Homo sapiens: one gene and its partner. The protein of the gene in region 1 interacts with the protein of each later gene in a pairwise test. Each region holds a gene or a part of one and is shown on either strand. Other genes may lie near its edges.

Evidence for each region. The genes of interacting proteins can lie anywhere in the genome.
Region 2: the proteins of ZMAT5 (region 1) and RBPMS2 interact in binary tests that used the Homo sapiens proteins (3 or more experiments, as listed by UniProt).

The regions. Positions count from the first base shown.
Region 1 is NC_000022.11:29,764,943-29,768,542, forward strand, and holds the start of ZMAT5 (zinc finger matrin-type protein 5), read right to left. Parts: upstream 2,066-3,600; 5' UTR 1,930-2,065; intron 1-1,929. Other genes in the region: UQCR10 (cytochrome b-c1 complex subunit 9), read left to right, coding at 2,457-2,606.
Region 2 is NC_000015.10:64,773,872-64,777,686, forward strand, and holds the start of RBPMS2 (RNA-binding protein with multiple splicing 2), read right to left. Parts: upstream 1,719-3,815; 5' UTR 1,449-1,718; coding exon 1,362-1,448; intron 873-1,361; exon of another isoform or gene 785-872; intron 581-784; exon of another isoform or gene 566-580; coding exon of another isoform or gene 563-565; intron 1-562.

The sequences.
Region 1 (3,600 bases):
GGTTTTGAATGCCACCCCTATCCGGATGACTCTTCTCAGGCTCATACCTCTCCTCTAAACTACAGATCCATGTCCTCATTTGCCTCTAGACACCTCCACTTGATGTCTGTTGGCTAGCTCAAACTGATGTGGCCAAAACAGAACTTAAGATCATTCTGTTGATTTTAAATTGTTGAGGTCAAAACTTAGATGTCAGCTGGACGCGGTGGCTCACACCTGTAATCCCGGCACTTTGGGAGACCGTGGCAGGCGGATCACTTGAGGCCAGGAGTTCAAGACCAGCCTGGCCAACATGGTGAAACCTTGTCTCTACTAAAAATACAAAAATGAGCTGGGCGTGTTGGCATCCGCTTGTAATCCCAGCTATTCAGTAGGCTGAGGCATGAGAATTGCTTGAACATGGGTGGCAGAGGTTGCAGTGAGCCAAGATTGTGCCACTGCACTCCAGCCGCACAGAGTGAGACTCTGTCTCAAAAAAAAACAAAAAACAAAAAACAAAAAAAACTTAGATATCCTCCTCAATTCCTCTTTCCTGTGCACCCTACACACATCTGCTAGCTTGCTCTGTCTGCCCTCCCTCCCAAATTACATCCCAAATCTGATCACTGCCCTGCTCCACACCCTAACCTAAATTACCACCCATCAGGCCGGGCATGGTGGCTCACGCCTGTAATCCCAGCACTTTGGGAGGCCAAGATGGGAGGATCACCTGAAGTCAGGAGTTTGAGACTAGCCTGGCCAACATGGTGAAACCCTGTCTCTACTAAAAAAAAAAATTAGCCAGGCATGGTGGCAGGCGCCTGTAATCCCAGCCACTCGGGAGGCTGAAGCAGGAGAATCACTTGAACCCGGGAGGCGGAGGTTGCAGTAAGCCGAGATAGCACCACTACACTCCAGTCTGGACGACAGACCGAGACTCCATCTCAAATAAATAACCACCCATCTTCCCTCAAATGATCTACTACAATAACTTCCCCCTTGCGGTCCACTCTCCATAGACCAGCCAGGATGATGACATTAAAGTGCACATTAAATCTTGTCGCATTTCTCCTGAAAACCCTTCAATGGCCTCCTAGTGCAACTAGAAAAAGACAAGACTCCTTGGCCAGACGCGGTGGCTCACGCACCTTGGGGGGCGAGGCAGGAAGATTGCTTGAGCCCAGGAGTTGGAGACCAGCCTGGGCAACACAGTGAGACCCTGTCTCTAAAAACAAAAACCAAAGAAAACAAGACTCCGTAAGGTGGGTTCCAAGGCCAGACATGAGCTGACCGGAGTCAACCTCTTCACAGTCCACTCTACTTCTTTCCCTCAAACATCCCAGGACTGTAGCTGCCTCAAGGCCTTTGCACCAACGTTTTCCTGTTCAACTCTACTATTCATTCAGGTCTCTAGTCAAGTGTCACCCCCCAGAGCAGCTACCCAGGGTGCAATGTCACCACCACTGCCTCTCCAGTCAACCAAAGCACTATCTGTTTGCTGTACTGCATCTCCCCACCCGCCCACTCCGTAGATTGAGCGCTCTGTGAGAGCAAGGACTTTGTTCACTGCTGGGTCCCCAGAGCAGGGACCAGAACAGGCGCTGGGAAAACATCTGTTGAATGCCCCAGGTACTCCAAAGCCCTTGCTCTTTTCAATCCCAAGCAGGTTCCAAGTCTCCAGCCTTCCAAACCAGGGTTGCCCGGTGCGAAGCCCAGGGGTGAGAGGAACAGGAAGCAGGGCAGATCCGTCCCTGCCCTTAATCCAGGGTGAAGGGTTTAACCTCCAGGACAAGACTTTTGCCGCAGGCTCCAGCTCCTGGCCTAGACTTGGGGCTGGTGCAGGGGACAAGGCGAAGAGTTGAGCCAGGGTCTCGGGAACCCAGCTGCCCTCGCCCCTCTATCCACACCCTATCCCAAGAAATGGTGCGTCCCGCCGCAGGGCGTACGCACAGAGAAGGAAGTGTTCAAGTCTTCCAGTGCGGAGAAAAGAGACTAGGACTCGCCCCTCGACGTCTCGCGGAAGGTACCTGGCTCCCCGGTGGCTGCAGCTCCGGGCTCCTCCTCCTGCGTCCTCGCGTCGCGTACTGCTTGCTGGGATTCGTAGTCTCGCCTTGGCCATCAGTTCGCCCTTCCCAGAGAGCTTTGGGAATCTAAGCCGGGACTGGGCGGAGGGCGGGGAGAAGGTGATGGCGCGCGAGGGCTTCTGGGAGTTGTAGTTTGACATATTCTAACAGCCAGGAATTCTGGAGAAGAAAAATTGGGTAATAAATCTTATCAGATTATCTGGGCTGTCCTGATATGAACCTTTTGAGTTTTTTTCCTCATTCCCAGGATAGGAATACCTCTGTGGTTCAAAACACGAAGGCTGAGATTCAGAGGAACTACAAATCCCATAAAGTGTTGCACGTCTAGGGCCTTTGGGGAACGAGGTCGGCCCCAGCGCAGGCGCGGTGGCGCGAGTTGGACTGTGAAGAAACATGGCGGCCGCGACGTTGACTTCGAAATTGTACTCCCTGCTGTTCCGCAGGACCTCCACCTTCGCCCTCACCATCATCGTGGGCGTCATGTTCTTCGAGCGCGCCTTCGATCAAGGCGCGGACGCTATCTACGACCACATCAACGAGGGGGTGAGGGCCTGTGCCATCCCTGACCTTGGACCCGCCTGAGGGGTGACAGTGGAGTAGAGGTGGGATGGGACTCAGTATACTTTTACCAGGAAGGGGGTAAGGGGTAAACCGTCGGCGTCTTCTGTCTCGAGTCCGCCGTCTGTCCCCTTGGCTTGATGTGAATTCTAAAACGTTAAGCGAGGTTAATATATTTCATTTTGCAGGGGTTGTAAGTATTGCTGTGTGCCACCCTACATACCCACTTGCCCATTATCAGAAGCAAAAACTAAAGGCTAGTGAGAGCAAAGGACTTACTAGCTGCACAGGAAGCCAGGGGCAAGTCAGGGCCAGAAACGGGACCCCTGTCTCTCAGAGTTTCAAGGGCAGATTTGAGCAGGCGACGGTCGTGAAAAGGACGTTAGACACCTTAGACGCCGTGGCTGAAGTTTCAGACGGCGCTTCTGGTCCCCAAGGCTTCCCACGTAGACAGTTGGTATTAATGGTTGAGAGTGGGGGCTATGAAATCAGAAAGCCTTGGATAGGAACACTGGTCCTTGTCACTTAACTGTGGCATTAAGTTGAGCAAGTTTCTTCTCTGAACTCCGTTTTAACTGTGAGATGGAGATATTAATAGTAACCTGAGCACGATTGTGAGGATTACATGAGATGCAGGCAGGGTGCCACATGCCTGGTAGGTGGTACCACTGAAAAATAATCATTGCTTACATTCCTCAGGAGAAAGTGGAAGCATGAGGTAGGAATCGCAACACATTTTTGACTTTTATGTATCATGCACTGTGCTAGGTGCAGTGCATGCTTTATATCGCTAAATTATGACTGTGCTGGAGTAGGCCTTATACATATAGCCCTGTTCCACCACTCACTTGTGTTTTTAATTTGAGACTGTCTGACTCTGCAGCCCGGGAAGGCACTGTCCACTAGTGCTATGCTGCCTGTGACCAGTGCAACTTCCTGCCCCATATGAAAGCATTGCTACTGTCCCATCTCTTGCAAG
Region 2 (3,815 bases), on another chromosome or scaffold:
CAAAGCCAAGGGCCTTTTGGCATCAAGGTACAAGGAGGGCAAGGCCTCTGGAGCCCAAACAAATCCACCACACTTAAGTCATTAGTGGACAGATGTCACAGTTGTATATTCTTCCCTTCCCCTTCCGCCAAAAAGTGGAGATCCAAACCTAGATTGTCATCGACTGGGGCTGGCTGAAGGTCTCTGAATAGCCGAGTGGGAGCTGGCGGCGCTGAGCCCAGCCCAGCCGAGGGCCACCGGCGCCATTCTGCACCAACCCCCAGCACAAGGGGAGGAGGCAACACCAGTCCACACCAGGGGCTCTGCGGTTTCTCCCCCAGGCCAAGGGGAAGGGCGCCCAAGGTGGATAACCAGCCCTTGGTTTCCTGGGCGAGAACATGCCAGGGCAGGGGCAGGAAGGCTCTCTCACCCCTAGAATGACGCAGCAGAGGCCAGAGGCCCTGCGAAGCCTGTCCCCTTCTACTCCAGTTCTTGTCTCCGCCAGCCTAGCTCCTCGTCCCTATTCACTGATATCTTTGAGGCTTTTATCCAGCACCCCACCCCGCACACACATCCTCCCTACCATCCATTAACCACCCAGCTGCTGGTGGTTCCACGGAGCCGCCTTACACTCCCTCCCTTTCGCACATGGCCGGTGGACGAGATGATTTCGCCCCTCCTGGCAGGATCCCACCCAGGCCAGCTTTGGGGTCCTGGCTTGGTTGCCAGGACAAACCCAGAGAGAGGAGAAGGACGAACTGAGTGTCTTTAGTCATCTTCCAAACTAATTAAATTGTGGGCTCACCTCTGCCAAAGCCCAGGTTCTGGGGCTGTGAAGAAAGCCCGCCCACCCCCATGACAACAGCTCGCAGGAACCGAGGAGCCGGCCGGCCCAGGCCTCCAAGGTCACGGGGAGGGGGTCAGGGCGGAAAAGGCAGTGGAGTGAGGGTGCCGCCCTCGGGCCGTGCTAATCCCGCTCCGCTCCGTGCCGCCGAGGCGGGGTCCTGGCCACGCAGGAGGTGCGCCTCGGAGGAGGGCGGCGAGCGGCTACGGGGTGGGGAGCAAGGGGCGCGCGGGCGGCAGGCATGGAACGGACGCGGCGCATCTCGCCCACCGCGGGACGCCCGGACGGCGGCCGGCGCGCGCGGCCCGCCTCGAGCCCGAGAGGGCGGGGAGACAATGCCTGTCCGGCGGGGCAGTCCAGGCCGCACGCTCCCGCCCGCGGACACGGGCCGCTCCTACCCGGGCGAGAGGGCAGCGGCGGGAAGGCGCCGGGAGCGATGGCCACCCCGGCCCCGCGAGGCGCGGCAGGCCCCGCTCGCCCTCTCCCGCGCCCGCCTGGCGTGCGCTTCACCCGGCAAGTCCCGGGGCCACAGACCCACCTCCTCCTCCAGGGCGCCGCCGGAGCCCGCGCCGGAGCCGGTGCCGGTGCTGCCGCCGTGCTCGCCGTCCGGCTTCAGGTTGCTCATGGTGCGGGGGAGGGGGCGGCGGGAAGGAACGCGAGGGCGAGCGCGGCGCCGGCCCCGCGGGAAGTGGGAAGGGGCGCGGGGAGCGGTGCGCTCGCGGGTGCGGAGCGGGTGGCGGGGGACCCACGGGGCAGTGAGAGGGGCAGCCTCCGCGTCGGGCCAGGGTCACATCAAGTTTGGCGGGTGCGGAAGGTGGGGAGGGGGTGCGGCGGGGGAGGCAGTGGGAGCCGGAGGGGCCGCCGCCTCCGCCTTTTCACTGCGACCGGCGAGTGCGCCGCGGCGGCGGCGGCGGCGGCAGCGGCGGCGGGGGGCGGGCGCCGGGGGAGGGGGCGGGCGCCGGCGGCGGGGGGCGGGGCCGGAACCGGCCTCAGCTGGGGCCCGGCCAGCCCCCTCCCCCGCCCGCCGCGCGGTCTCCGGGGGAACGCGCAGCCAATCCCCACCGCCCACCGTGGGCTCGCCCCGGCCCCGGCCGCGGGGCGCCGGCCTCCGGCCGGGCCTTTCCCCTCTCTCTCGCCTGGGTCAGCGCTCTCCCTCTCTCCTCTTCCCCCGCGCCCTTCTCCACGGCGAGTTTTTAAACTTTGATGAACTCGCCCGGCGAACTTTCTTAAAGGGGCCGCGCGCTGCGCGCCCCAGCCCGCGGGAGGTGGAGCCCCGTGCCCCGCACCCAGCGCCCCGGTCCCTGGGCGGCCCTGCCCGGGCGGCCTCGCGCTTAGGGCACCCGCAGCGAGGTTTCCGGGCCGTCGACTCCCCTTGTATCTTGATCTAGGGTTTTGGGGTTCCCGACGCACTCATTCTGCCCCTAAATCCAGTCGCGCAGACCTCAGCTCCGGGGGACCGAGTTCTGGGGGTGATGGCCGGGGGGAGGGGGTTGGGAGACACCTGAGCTTTGGCCCGGGCTGGGCGCTGTTTTGCTGAGTGACCTTGAGGAAATCACTTCCCCTCTCTGGCCTCAGGCTCCCAGCCCAGAGGGTGGGACTTAGGATCTCAAACTCCCTTCCCACTCCCAGTCACTATCTGAATAGGACTTAGGTGGGGATTCGAGTGTTGGGACCCCAATGGTCATTAGCGAGGGCTGCCTCGAATGACCAAGAAGGTTCTGTTGCCCACCTTGCCCTCAACACGCCTGGCTTTCGGGTCTTCTCGCTCCTCCCCCGACCTCAGTGCCCCTCACACCTTTCCCTGCCTCCTATTCTGAGCCCGAAGGCTGGGGACGGATGTAATAGCCTAGAGGCTGGGGGAGGTGGGGGAGGTCGTCGTGACTCCCCCCGCACCCCCGCGCAGGTCAGTAGGGCGCGGCCTCTGGGTCGGTTTTCTCTTCTATTTGAAAACCCAGCCGATGGGGGCCCGCCCTGCTGCCACAGTAGAAACCCGCACCCACCTCGGGGAGCGCTGGAAGCGCTGCAGCCTGAATCCGGCAGAGCCGCGGGAGAACTGGGTCCCTCCTCAGTGCCCCTTCTCCTGGACGGGGCGGAGGTTGCGGTGACCCGAGATCTTGCCATTGCACTCCAGCCAGGGCAACAAGAGCGAAACTCCGTCTCAAAAAAAGAAAAGAAAAAAGAAAAGCTGGATTTGCAGTCACGGACTGGTTAGGATCCCAGACCGTGGACAAGTGCCTGAGCCCCCAGAACCTCTGTGTGTCGACCTCCTGAATTAGGTAGGACTAGCACCACAGGATCACTGTGCTGTGGCTTAGTCTTCCCAGTAAATTATAATCTCCATCCTGACCTGCCATCTCACAGATAAATTGAGGCCTAGAGATGGGCAATGTCTTTCCAATGATATACTCATTCCTTTAGTAAATAATTATTGAGCACCTACTGTGGGCTGGGGACCATTTTCTGCTGGTGGCAAGGCCAAGAGCACCCTGGTTTCCCATCAGCCCTGTTGCCAACACTTGGCTCAGGCCCTATGAAGAGGGAGCTGCTGCCTGTAGGAGCCAGACCTTTACCCAGAGTTTTTAAGATGCCTCCAGCCTCAGGCATCTCCAGATAGAACCAACCTTGGGAACCCTCAGATACCCCTACCATCCTCCACAGGCCTCAGTCCAATCTGGCTGTGGGCTTGATCACCATCCCCTCCCCTAGAATAGGTCTTCCTATCAGGTTTGTCTCTAACTTTGGCCCAGGAATACTCTTCCTCTTCCTCTTCCTCCCCCGCTCCCCCTAATCAATCCAAAATCTTCCCTTCCCTCAAGATCCTGCCTTTCCCATGCTTTTTCCAGGAGAAGGAGCCTGGCCAGATTTCTGAACTCAGCCATTATATGGTTAATTTGAATTTTTCAAAGAAGAGCCTCTCATCTTGTAATTCTGGTCACCCTTCTTCTCCATTCTGGTCTCTGTTTTCTCCATAGATGGGAGAGCTAAGGCCCAA